Linked DNA regions of Homo sapiens: region 1 is linked to region 2. A link means that fine-mapping ties the variant in region 2 to the expression of a gene that starts in the linked region. Tissue or cell type: whole blood. Region 2 holds a variant in brackets; the other region holds the start of a gene. All regions are shown on one strand. Distances are between the middles of the regions.

Evidence for each region. PIP is the estimated chance that this variant, and not a neighbour inherited with it, causes the effect.
Region 1: PSMA3-AS1 starts here. The variant in region 2 is fine-mapped to the expression of PSMA3-AS1 in whole blood (INTERVAL, PIP 0.98).

The regions. Positions count from the first base shown.
Region 1 is chr14:58,294,216-58,300,859 of GRCh38, forward strand. PSMA3-AS1 (PSMA3 antisense RNA 1) reads right to left here and starts at 3,922. Exons shown (of 4, transcript NR_029435.1): 1 at 3,740-3,922. ARID4A (AT-rich interaction domain 4A) reads left to right here and starts at 4,340. Exons shown (of 24, transcript NM_002892.4): 1 at 4,340-4,485; 2 at 5,583-5,645. The coding sequence starts at 5,640. RefSeq lists enhancers at 3,570-4,293, 3,590-4,009, 4,030-4,079, 4,190-4,279 and a silencer at 4,910-5,429.
Region 2 is chr14:58,263,523-58,270,166 of GRCh38, forward strand. It overlaps PSMA3 (proteasome 20S subunit alpha 3), which reads left to right. Exons shown (of 11, transcript NM_002788.4): 7 at 183-248; 8 at 3,952-3,998. It overlaps PSMA3-AS1 (PSMA3 antisense RNA 1), which reads right to left. Exons shown (of 4, transcript NR_029435.1): 4 at 1,843-3,871. Among named protein-coding and RNA genes, the nearest start is that of LINC00216, 21 kb to the right of the region's middle. The variant A/G (reference allele first, on the strand shown) is at 3,161.

The sequences.
Region 1 (6,644 bases), 31 kb after region 2:
CTTTATTAATCAAAATAGAAACCATTACAATCAACACATTTTTAAGTTGTTTATTCCTGTAGTGTAGAAATCCATGCTTTAGGATTCGACGAACTCTTGGAAAGCATTTTCTGCATCCTGCTAGTTGTGGAAGTGTTTTCCCTGCAAAAAGGTGTCGCAATGCTTGAAGAAGTCGTAGTCAATGGAGAGAGGTCAGGTGAATATGGCGGATGAGGCAAAATGTCACAGCCCAATTTGTTCAACTTTTGAAGCATTGGTTGTGCAACATGTGGAAGGGCATTGTGAAGAATTGGGCCTCTTTCTGTTGACCAATGCTGACTGCAAGCGTTGCAGTTTTTGGTGCATCTCATCGATTTGCTGACCATACTTCTCAGATGTAATGGTTTCGCCAGGATTCAGAATGCTATAGTGGATCAGACCAGCAGCAGACCACAAAACAGTGACCATGACCTTTTTTTGGTGCAAGTTTGGCTTTGGTAAGTGCTTTGGAGAATCTTCTCAGTCCATCTACTGAGCTGGCCATCACCAGTTGTTGTATAAAATCCACTTTTTCTCGCACATCACAATCTGACCAAGAAATGGTTTGTTGTTGCAAAAAATAAGGGATAAGGACACTTCAAAACAATGACTTTTTTTTTCGGTCAGTTCATGAGGCACCCACTTATCGAGCTTTTTCACTTTTTAATTTGCTTCAAATGCTGAAGGACTGTAGAATGGTCCACATTGAGTTCTTCGGCAACATCTCAAGTAGCCTTAAGAGGATCAGCTTTGCTGATTGCTCTTAACCGGTAGTTATCAACTTCTGGCGACCAGCCACTACGCTCCTGATTTTCAAGACTTTCCTTCCCTTTGCAAAATTTCTTGAAACTGCCAGGCACAGCGGCTCAAGCCTGTAATCCCAGCACTTTGGGAGGCCAAGGCGGGCGGATCACGAGGTCAGGAGTTCGAGACCAGCCTGGGCCAAGATGGTGAAACTCCATCTCTACTAAAAATACAAAAATTAGCTGAGCATGGTGGTGCGTGCCTGTAATCCCAGCTACTGGGGAGGCTGAGGCAGAATGGCTTGAACCCAGGAGGCAGAGGTTGCAGTGAGCCAAGATCATGCCACTGCACTCTAGCCTGAAAGAGCAAGATTCCATCTCAAACAACAACAACAAAAAAACTTCTTGAATCACCACTGCACTGTAAGTTAACAGTTCCTGAACCATATGCATTGCTGATATGGTGTCTCTGTTGTTTTACAACCCATTTTTAACTCAAAAACGAAAACTGCTCGAATTTGCTTTTTTGTCTAACATCATTTTCATTGTCTAAAATACACATGAAGGCTGGGCACGTGGCTCATGCCCGTAATCCCACCACTTTACGAGGCCGAGGCAGGCAGATCATGAGGTCAGGAGATCGAGACCACCATGGCTAACATGGTGAAGCCCCTTGGCTCTATTAAAAATACAAAAAATTAGCTGGTGTGGTGGCACGCGCCTGTAGTCCCAGCTACTCGGGAGGCTGAGGCAGAAGAATTGCTTGAACCTGGGAGGCAGAGGTTGTAGTGAGCCGAGATGGTGCCACTGACTTCAGCCTGGCGACAGAGCGTGACTCTGTCTCAAAAATAAAATAAAATAAACATGAAATAAACAGAGAGTAATAAGTCATTACCAAAAGAACAAAGCGAGAAATGCCCATTAAAATGATGTATAACATAACCACATTTATTTAACAACGTAGTCCAACATCAAATGGCAAATTCCAATAATGCAAAAACCACGATTACTTTTGCAACGACCTTCTTAGACACAATATTTTGCAAAACATGTACAAGGATATTCACTGACATATTACTGCCATTATAGAAAAATAAACACGTTACATAAATTATGATATATTTATCCCACAAAACACTATGAAGACATAAAAGATGCTTTACGATAAGATATTTCCAATATTCCCAATGTTTTCTATAAAGAATAGACGGTAATGAACAACACTAGAATATTTGGTAAAACAAAACCAACAAAAAAGACAAAGCCTTTTGTATAATATATAACTATAGTGTAAACCGTAACTACCTTTTGGAGGAGGGAAGACATTTTTGTATTCTTCTTTGGGCTTTTTAATAATTTCCAAATGTCCATGCATTATTTGGATTCAATAATAACAGTTTAAACTTTGATCGTAGAATTATGGATGCTTACCCCCTAGAAAATTCAGTAATATATTGTTTTATAAGGTCTTTTAAAAAACTGCTTCACTCCTACGAGATTGCGCCACTGCACTCCAGCCTCGATGACAGAGAGAGACTCTGTCTCCAAAAAAAAAAAAAAAAAAAAAAAAAAAGCCTCACTCCTAAACACTCCCATTTACAAGATCTTTTCTATATAAGAACTTTTTAAATAGGCGGGTGGGGGGGAGGAAATCACAAAAATACGCATAATGTTTTATAACAAAAACATGAGGTATATCAAAGTCCAGAAATGAGAACCACGTAAATGGGTAAACAAGTCCATAAGGATGTCCTAATTTTGGGATTTCATTCTAAAATATTACACTAGAAAGCTAATTATACAGACTCATTTGAATCTGACCAAACAAAACATCTTTTAACTACCCTTCCTCCCATTCTGGTATTTCTTTACTAATCCATAGAAAGTTTTTCCAGGTAGTCCCCCGCAATTCTAAGGATTTTTAGACTTTATGACTCACCTCAGTAATCACTGAGATGTTCTGTTTTCTTCAGCACAACTGCCAAAAAACCCAGTAATTGTTAAGTCACACAATCATTTTCTAGTTATGGGCGCCACCAATATAGCAGTAGGGTTTAAAACAGAGGTATTGAGGGTAACTATTAGGATCTATCCAGTGTGACTAGGTCACTCACTAGAAATGCCAACATGCATTTCACGTTTTTATGAATACTTTTGAGCAAAATTACTGTTACGAATAAAAAACTGATTCTGCTCGGCTGTTTTCTTACTGAGAAAATTTAGTCCACGTGGATTACTGACGATATGTCACATTTTAAAAATTACTCCATTCTATAAAACTAGTCAATTTTATACTCCAATTCCGCTATTTAAAAATGTGTGTTTCGTTTAACAGAATATAAGATGTTAACAGAAAAAGATCAACGTCTATCTTATCGGGGACGTCCTTTTGTCTAAGATGTTTTCAGTCCCTGCAAAACCACTGTTTGCTTTCAAAAAGTAGCATAAGCCTCGTGCAGAGTGACAGACCCTTGTCTAAGGTCACAGAAGAAGCGTCTGCGCTGGCAAGTAAATTCCTCAGCATCCAGAAAGCCAGCGCTTTCTCCAGTTTCCTCATAGCTTTATCCCGTGAGGAGCACGCGGAAACCTCTACCCATGCAGGATGTTTCTAAGAACCACTTCTTCCCTGTCTTAACTAAGAAGGCTCCCACAGCTGGTGCCAATCAGGTGGAGAACATGGCAAGTCCCCGAAATGCACTTCCAAAGACAGGAAAGATTGCAGTGGGACAGAACCCAGAAAATCTCTCACATTCTCGAAAACCCGAAAGAGAACCTCCAAGAAAGACGTTTGCCTCTCCTCCACCTCTTTATCTCGGCGGGAGAGGAAGCCTCGCCCCCATTCATCCCGCCCCTTCTCCCCACCCCGCCGCAGGGAGAAGTTTACCATGGCTGCCTGCGGCCCCTTCACTTCCGGTGCCGGTGCCGCTAGGGCTGCGCCATCCCCCCAGTCAATCGGACAACCATAGCCTCCAACTGACCTTTCTGACAGCTCTGAGACTCCTCCGGCCACGACTAGGTGCTGTCCTGGAGGAAACGGTGGAGGACGGCCGCACAAAAACCAATCTACCTGATGAAAACTCCGTTCCCTTCTCGCCAGAAACATAAAATGCGATGGAGCTACGGCCACCGCTGCCGAGACAAAATGGCGCCGACAAGCTGGTTTAGCGCAAGCGCCTTGGACAGACCCTGCCCCGCCCCCGTGCAAGCCCCTGGCTGCAATTCTGGGTTCCGTTTCCATGGGACACTCCGCCGCCAATCCTCGTGTCGAACTGCTCTTCCTGACCCCTCAATTCACCAATCAGTGCCCAGTCAAGCACATCCGGAGTCGTCTCTACCAATCATTTCTCAGGACTTGCTTACTCAATAACCAACTCTCCAATAAAGTTGGTTTTCGGAAAAAGCCAATCATAAGTGGAAGATGTCCTACCTGCTGTTTTTCTCACCAATCCATGAAGTTTCACAGCTACATCCAATGAGGACGGCAGGTAGCGAGGTCCTATCCGAAGCTCTTCGGCGTCATGAGCAGCCAATAGGAGTTCGTGTAGAAGCGAGTCTGCTCAACAGCTTGTTATTTGGTGGATTGTGGCAGTAAATCGGGGCGAGTGGGGAACCCGGCGCAGGAACTGCAGCCGCGGCTGGGAGTGGTGCTGCCCGGACGGGGGCCCACGGAGGTCAGAGGGGAGGAGGACTCTGGAGCTGACAGCGCGCACTTCACCCGCAGTTGGTAGGTGGGGAGAGGGGAATCCGGGGATACTGAATGGACGAAGTGGCAGTAGCAGCAGCTGCTGCTGCCCGAGGTCCCGGTGCAGTTGGAAGCTTTGGAGGTGGGGAGAGGGATGCTAGGCAAGTGGCACGGCGAGCGCAAGGGAAGGGGCCAGCCATTGACCAGCGGCAGCAACTGCAGGAACCGCCGCCGCAGTTGCAGCCGCCTCCTCGTCCGCTTCCTCGGGTTCCCGGGAAAATGGCTGTGGGGCTGGCCGCGCCGCTAAGTTTGCTTCCGCGCGGTGAAGAGCGGGCTGCTTGGGGGAGCCGTCCCCCAACTCCGCGGCGCGTCCACCTCTGCGGAGTCCGTGGCAGGACTCGAGGGGCTACGAGCTGATACCTCTCTGGGCTGTACAAAAAGTTGAGGCGGGCGCTGGGAGGAGGCAGCGGCTGCTGCGGTGCGGCTCCCCTCCCCTCCCACACCCTGTCCGGGCCACCTCCCCTCCTCCTCCCCTCCGCCCCCCGCCCCCTCCCCCACGCGGGTCCCCCGGGGCTCTGGCGGCTCCCGGCTGAAGGCCGCGGCCCCTGCCCCTTTGGGTGAAGGAGCGCTTCTCCTTTCTGACATGGTGCAGAGCGAAGGAAGGAGAGCAATGGCGCCGTGACACTCCGCTGCCGCCACCGCGGGCCCGGGGCGGGCCGAGGGGGCCGAGCGGCGGAGGCGGGGCGCGGGCCGAAGTCGGGGTATCCGGGGGACCGCGGAGCGGAGGCTCGGCGGTCGTCTCCGCGGGGGACCTGGGGAAGCCCGAAGGGAGCTCTGGCCTTTTCCGGAGCTATCTGTCCTGGAGCTCCGAGTTGAGCATTCCGGGTCAAAGTGGCCAGCGAGGCGGGGGCGCGGTGGGCCGCTGGCGAGCTCCGGGGCGGAACGGGCTGCCCTTTGGCGCTCGTGGGGTTCTCGCTGCCCCCTCAGCTCCTGCGTCCTGGCTGCCCTCGTAAGGGGTCTTGTCCCTTGGCTGGTGAGGATTCTGCCCCTCCCCGCTGGCGTTTGTTTACTTTCTTTCCCTTGGTCGCTCCCCGCAGTTGACTGATTATGTCTGTGCCTGTCTTTCCCCCTCCCCATAGTTCTAGCGACTGCGAAGATAGCTCGCTGAGCTGGAACCCCACAGATCACCAACAAAAATGAAGGTAAGTGGAGTCAACTCTGCCCCGATCCTCGCGCCCTGAACACTGCCAATCCTAAGGCTAGTGCCGTGGAATGTCATTTGTTTTGCTACTCAAAATTGATGTTCCTACTGATCAGCAGTTTCGGCATAGGAGGATGTGTTGAATGGGTGAAAAATGATCTGTGTGTCTAAATGCGGAGTTTAGGCCCTCTCTGTAGCAGTACTTTGGAAAGGCTGGTGCAGCCTTTCAATTGTTGTCCATTCGGATAGTATTTTTAAACACTTCCTGTGTTGGCAGCAACCTTTGCAGAAGTAAAGCTTTTGTCCTGCTTTGGTTCTTTGGGGGATTTTTTGTAAATTTTTTTTCTTCCCGTGTGCCAATGCGATTTTCTAAAAGAAAGAATACGTGGATTAAGTAATGAAGGTATCATTTCTTCTGTGTGTAAAATGAACTTATGTGGCTAAAATATTTGAAGTTGAAGTATAATAATAGTTTTAGTTAAATCTTTCCAATAAGTATTTTAAAACATATACTAAAAAGATACATATTCTACTGAGGATGACTGCAAATATCAGTATGTGGATGGTTAAAGGGAAAGGATCTCATATAGCGTTCTTGAATGCTGTGGCCATTGAATGTTTCAGGTCAGATTTTTGTTTGCCAAAAGCATTCCTATTCAATTTGTATTTTTTGTAAATGCACTTACTTTAAAAGGTACCCAATTCCTGTCTTATTTACTGTTTCAGCATATTAAGCTCTGAAATATAGCATTTTCCCAAACTTTCTCGTGGTTTTCTATTTTCTCGAAGTAAATGACATATTTAACCTTCTTTAATATTACTTGGGAAAACTTATTAGAAAACAAAAAATCATTTTCTACTTCAAAACGTATCTCCAAAGTGTACACTGTTAACTTTGCACTTAACAATGTTAAGTTGAACTTGTATGGATACACTTTAACTTCCGGAAAAAAAAAAAAAAGGTAAAATGACAGATTGAGATAGCAATCATCCTGTTACT
Region 2 (6,644 bases):
TTTGGTATTTTAGTATTTTTGAGCCCTTTGGCATTCATCAGAATGTGTTTGACTATATTTTTCTATACTTGCTTTTAAAAGTCATTTAGCATCCTTTCACTAGGTTATAGAAACATTAGTAGTCATTAATTACATATGATAGTGTACTAATTCAGTGATTATATATATTTTTTTCTAAATAGGGTTATTGGGGCTGTGCCATCGGCAAAGCCAGGCAAGCTGCAAAGACGGAAATAGAGAAGCTTCAGGTAATAATTAATGCTTGAATTTTTACTATGTCGTCATCCTAATGCAGTGAAATTTTATCACCACAGACATTTCAGTCTAAGGCAGGGATGTCCAATCATTTGGCTTCCCTGGGCCACACATAAAATACACCAACACTAATGATAGCTGATGAGCTTAAAAAAAAATCTCATCATGTGTTAAGAAAGTTTACGAATTTGTGTTTGGCCCCATGTGGCCTGTGGCTGGGGAAGCTCGGTGTAAGGATATAGTGTGGTTTGATGTTGAGAGTTTATGAAGCTGCTAAGTCACTGAATGGGAAAGCTGGTAACATATTATCTGTAGAGTTGTGTTATACATCCCTTTATAGATTCTGAATAACTGCTATAAAGCCTCAATCTAGAAAAACACAACTTTTGATATGATTTCACAAAATCCTTGAAACCTATTTATGAATCTCTGTGAGCTCTAGTTTGAAAATTTTGTTTAAAATTTTGAGTTAATAAAAAGTTATATTTTTCCTATATTCTTTCTTTGGAACACAGCTTTTATGTCTGGCTGTGCTCCACCGGTTCTCTTAGCTTTGCTCCTAGCCAGGTAAGGCATAAAGCCTACACTCTTACGACTACCCACTTTTTCTTTCACAAAATTCAGCTATTAGTGTGAAAAAGTTTTCTTAAAAACTTGGTTTTCCTTTTAGCCATGCGTTGATCAACTTAAAGACTTCATGGATACTGTTTCAATATTATTGATTACCTGTCAGAAACTTGCCTAAAAAGCAGGCATACCATTTATCAGTGTTTTGGTAAACTGAAGTGAGATACAATTTCACATACATTTAATGTTAATGCTGTACTAGAACCCTGCTCAACTAATTACTCATTCAACTTATTTAAGACCAGCTTCTAGAAAATACTTATTAGTGCTTGGCATTTATACAATGCTAAGTTCTAGAACCCCCTATAAAACCTAATTTGTTTCGTATTTTAGTAAAGCTGACAAAAGGATCTTAGAGGTCATTTAGCCCAAGCTCAACTGCAGATTAAACACACTGCATAGGACCACAGAATCAGCTGGTTCTGAACAGTATCCAGACCTTATGAGTCTTAGACCTATGTTCTTTTCCATTGCACACTTACTAGTATGATGCTAGGTTCCTATCTTCTACTCTTTTCCTTTTGTTTTCATCTCTCCATACTATTATATGGAAATTTGAAAATTAGAATATTTATGTCAGTTGAGGGGGATTACCCCTGTAATCCTACCAGTTTGGTAGGCCAAGTTGGGAGGACTGCTTGAGCCCAGTAGTTCCAAGACCAGGCTGGGCAAAAGAGTAAGACCCTATCTCCCAAAACAAAATGTTAGCGAGGTGAGGTGGTGCGTGCCTGTAGTCCCAGCTACTTGGGAGGCTGAGGCAGGAGGACTGTTTGAGCCCCAGCCAGGAGTTGGGGGCTACAGTGAGCTATGATCACGCCACTGCACTCCAGCCAGGGCAACAGAGCGACACCTTATCTCAAAAAAATAAAGGAAATTAGAATATTTAGAGCAGTTACTATCTGTCTTTCTGTAGTTAAATCCTAGCAAGGAATGGGAAAAACAATAAATCCCAGAGAAAAATCAAGAAAAAAAAATCACTTTAATTGAGGAACACTTTCAGTTTGTGACAAAATTATGCTGTGAATCAGGTGTTGCAAATTATGGCCCACTGCCTGCTTTTGTGTAAGTTTTATTGGAACACAGCTACATTCAGTCCATGGCTGCTTTTAGAATACAACAGTAGACTTTAACATTTGGAACAGGGAACAGAAACCAGAGCCATACAGCTAATAAACTTGAAAATATTTACAAGTTGATGCTTTACAAAATCCATCTGCTGACCCCTGCTCTGTACCATTGTTCTCTTCTGATGGTCTGTTTACTAAAAAATAAAAACTTCACAAACATGTAAAAAATAGATTTGCCATTTAAAATGTGCTTTTCAAGTTTGACTTTTTAGGATGCAATTAATTCACTAAATACAGAACTTAACTAAGGACAAAAATTTAAAGATCAGCATTCTTTCCCTTCCCATCACGCTCAACTTAACATGAAGAACTGTAAACATCCTAAGCTTACAACAAACCTATCTAGTTAGACTTCAGTTAACCACTTACACATCCCCCTCCCCCATGAACTATTTGGAAAAAGCTGCAGGCGTAATATTGGATCCCTAAATACTTTATTCTCCTTATACCATTATCAGACCCAAGTATCATCTAATAGTCCATAATCAAACTGCCTAAGCAGTTTCTACACTGTCTTTTTAACTATTTCAAACTATCAAGGTTCGCATTTTCTTCCTTAGAACTTTTAGTCTTTTTCTTCCCCAAAATATTTGAGTCCATGCCAGTTGCCTTTAGTTGTACCCAAATAATGGTTTGTCTATTTCCTAAAAGTAGTACTCTTAAATTTAAATTTAGTGTTATTTTTGTTGTCATTGTTCCTTCTTCCTCATGTGGTTGTGCAGGCAGAGCTTGAGCATCCAGATTTCAAAATTAAAAAATAAAAGATAATCTAGTTTAATATATAGTAGTTGAATCACCTTAAGTCTAGACTGCTGTATGAGCACCCATTATCTTTCACTATATTCCATCATCCCCCAACATATCCACAGTAGATGAAGGGCAGTTTGCTCAAACATTGTTTTGATCCTGTCATGTCTGTTCAGAAATGCCTGTCTATTCAGAAACCCACGTCTAATAACAAAATCTTGGACTGGTTACTATCAAAACCCAACAACATACAGACTCCTCAGCTAGGCCCTAGGGATATTTTTCTACCTTGATTTCCAAATGTTCATTGAAAGAATGCTTAATTCTAATTTGGAAAAAAGTTTTTGGCTTCCCACTTCTGCTTTACACGTTCATCTTTCTTGAAATCAAATCCAATCCAATCT[A/G]TATTCTAAGAACCTGCTCAAATCTTGGTTCTTCAAAGCTTTCCCTGGTATTTTGCATTTTTGCTTTGAATAGTTCCACGAAGGATAACTTCTTACTCCTTCCTTCATCTTTCTGTATCTTGCATATAGTAAATATTAATGACTTGTTTGCATTTTGTTATCCTAACTTGGCTATAAAGAAAATCAGATGTCTTCACCAGTCGTTCAAACTTCAGGTCTGCCTACAGATTCATAGATGGCTGTGGATTTTTATAATTTTGTCACAAAGTTAGTGGTAACTACAGGTTATCTCAGAATATCTTTTTTGGCGTATAAATTTTTTTCTTTTCCTTTTTTAGACAGTCTCTCTCTCTGTCGCCCAGGCTAGAGTGCAGTGGCGTGATCCCGGCTCACTACAACCTCTGCCTCCTGGGTTCAAGAGATTCTTAGGCCTCAGCCTCCCGAGTAGCTAGGGTTACAGGCGCGCACCACCTCCATGCCCAGCTCTTTTGTATTTTTAAGTAGAGACAGGGTTTCACCATGTTGGTCAGGCTGGTCTCGAACTTCTGACTTCAGGCAATCCGGCCGCCTCGGCCTCCCAAAGTGCTGGGATTACAGGCACAAGCCACTGCACCCAGCCTGGAGTATAAATTTCAAAACATTAAAATATGAATCAGGAAACTTCGATTCTGGTCTTTTTCAGACTTTAGGTTATTTTCCTTGGTTTTATATCTGAGTATAAAAGTGAAAATAGTTATTACACAAGTGGAAAATGTTCTTCTGATGAACAGTATACATTTTATTTTCTATAGATGAAAGAAATGACCTGCCGTGATATCGTTAAAGAAGTTGCAAAAATGTAAGTTGAAATTTTTCTTACCATCCACAAAAATATTTCATTTGACCTTTGCATATATATATTACATTAATCCTAAGAAGCTGTTTTCCTGTAAAATAACTTAGTGTATAATTTTTAGAAGGTAAATTTAACATTCTAAGAAGCCTCACGAAGGAAGAAAATGTTTTTAAGCAATATTTTTTAGTAGTAATGAATAGGATGGGAAAAATAGCTTGACAAAATAAACTCCTGTTACAGGTTAAGGACATATACCATTAGGGTCTTAATTTGTTAGCTCCCAACTTCTCAAATCTCTTAAGTCCTAATAATAGTAATCTTAAGATTGCCTCTATTGTAAGAATGCTTACAAACTTTATAGGTTACAACTAATTATTTCAATACATGATCCATGAAGCTGGCTCATTTATATAATCTGCTATTTATTTGGGAAAGATATGTTTCACTTTTTCAGGTTTATTATAAAAGTTCCTATAACAAGGTAAGAAGAGCAGTATTACAAAACATTTCAACAACCAGCTTAAGAAACCCTGAATAGTTTATTACAGGTATATAAAGTAGAATACTATTAATATGTAACAGGTATTTGGACAGTAAACAATAAAAAAGTCAATTAACCTGGGTAGTGATGTTTCTAAAATTTTGTGATTCTCTAGATCAAAGAGTGTAGACATTTGGTATTACAAAAAGATTCCAACAAAATACGTTGTGTAGCCAGCTTTTTAGATTCAAAAGTTATGGATAATCGTAATTCATAACAACTCTAAGTATTCCACATTAGAACTACATAAACAAGGTCTAGTCAATCACCTGTCTGTATGGTAGTGTATCAGGTTTTACATCTAACAATACGTGGAAGAAAAAAATTCCAATGGGCTCTATTGTTTAATAAACATACTATTTACATCACACTCAGAGTCTCTTATTAACCGGTCCATCATTACTGCTACTGCCTTTACCCCTCTTGCCACCTCCTCCCCTCCGCCCTCCTAGTTTCAGTTGTGAAGCAAGCAGAAGCCATTCTATGATTGTCAGTTAATAATGGCAACACTAGGAACCAACATGCAGCAGAGCTGCTAAGAAAGGAAGTCAGATATCTTCCTTGAATTGTATAGTATGTTATCATGATATACTCTGTTTCCTTCACCGAACCAATCCTTTGAAGTCCTTCTGGAAATCAGTTCTTACCATCTTTTATATTTAGGTATAATGGTAGTCATCTGTTAAGTGTTCCATGTTAGGAAAGCCATCCCTTCATCATTTAAGAAAATGGAGCAGCATGTTATCTTTTACTTAGTTGTAGAAAATCAAGATCCTCTCATATTATAGCAAGGTTTTAGAAGACCCTCCAAAAAGTAAGGTATGTAACTCAGTGCATAGTATTAGATAAAGCTATACTCTGCTACTGTACTTAATTTGATACTTTTTTTTTTTTGAGATGGAGTCTCACTCTGTCGTCCAGACTGGAGGGCAGTGGCACGATCTTGGCTCACTGCAACCTCCGCCTCCCGTGTTCAAGCAATTCTCCTGCATCAGCCTCTCAAGTAGCTGGGATTACAGGCGCCCACCACCACACCTGGCTAATTTTTGTATTTTTAGTAGAGACAGGCTTTACCATCTTGGCCAGGCTGGTCTTGAACTCCTGACCTTGTGATCCACCCACCTTGGCCTCCCAAAGTGCTGGGATTACAGATGTGAACCACCGCACCTGGCCTCTTGATACTTTTTATGTTACTTTAATATGTTGCATGACAGTGCCTCCTTCTTTGCTGTAATTTGTAAGGTACTACAATGTGAAGGCCAGGTTATGTGGCATATATGCCATTATAAAATGGACAAGGAGCTTAAAAAGACTACTGCCAAGAAGCTATAGGTTGAAGAGACCACTAATAATTGCAAGCACATAAATTAGTTTTTTTTTTTTTATTTTTTTGAAACAGAGTCTCACTCTGTTGCCCAGGCTGGAGTGCAGTGTCGTGATCTCAGCTCACTGCAGCCCCTACCTCCTGGGTTCAAGCAAGTCTCCTGCCTCAGTTTCCCGAGTAGTTGGGACTACAGGCCTATGGCCACCTCACCTGGCTAATTTTTGTATTTTTAGTAGAGACGTGGGTTCACCATGTTGGCCAGGATGGTCTCGAACTCCTGACCTCATGATCCACCCGCCTCTGCCTCCCCAAAGTGCTAGGATTACAGGCACGAGCCACCATGTCCAGCCAATTAGTTGGTTTTAAATATATTTAAGTTAATGGACAAAATATTCTAAAAGGGCACAGTTAATGACGCCTCTTCCTAGTGAATCCGTGTTCTTTATGAGGTATCTTTTATAGTTGTATCTTTTTTTTTTTCTGAGATGGAGTCTCGCTCTACTGTAGCCCAGGATGGAGTGCAGTAGTGTGATCTTGGCTCACTGCAACCCCTGCCTCCCGGGTTCAAGGAATTCTCCTGCCTTAGCCTCCTGAGTAGCTGAGATTACAGGCGCCCACCACCACACCTGGCTGATTTTTGTTTCTTAGTAGAGACAGGGTTTCACCATGTTGGCCAGGCTAGTCTCGAACTGACCTCAAGTGATCCATCCGCCTTGGTCTCCCAAAGTGTTGGGATTACAGGTGTGAGCCACTGTGCCCAGCCAAGTTATATCTCTAAAGCAAT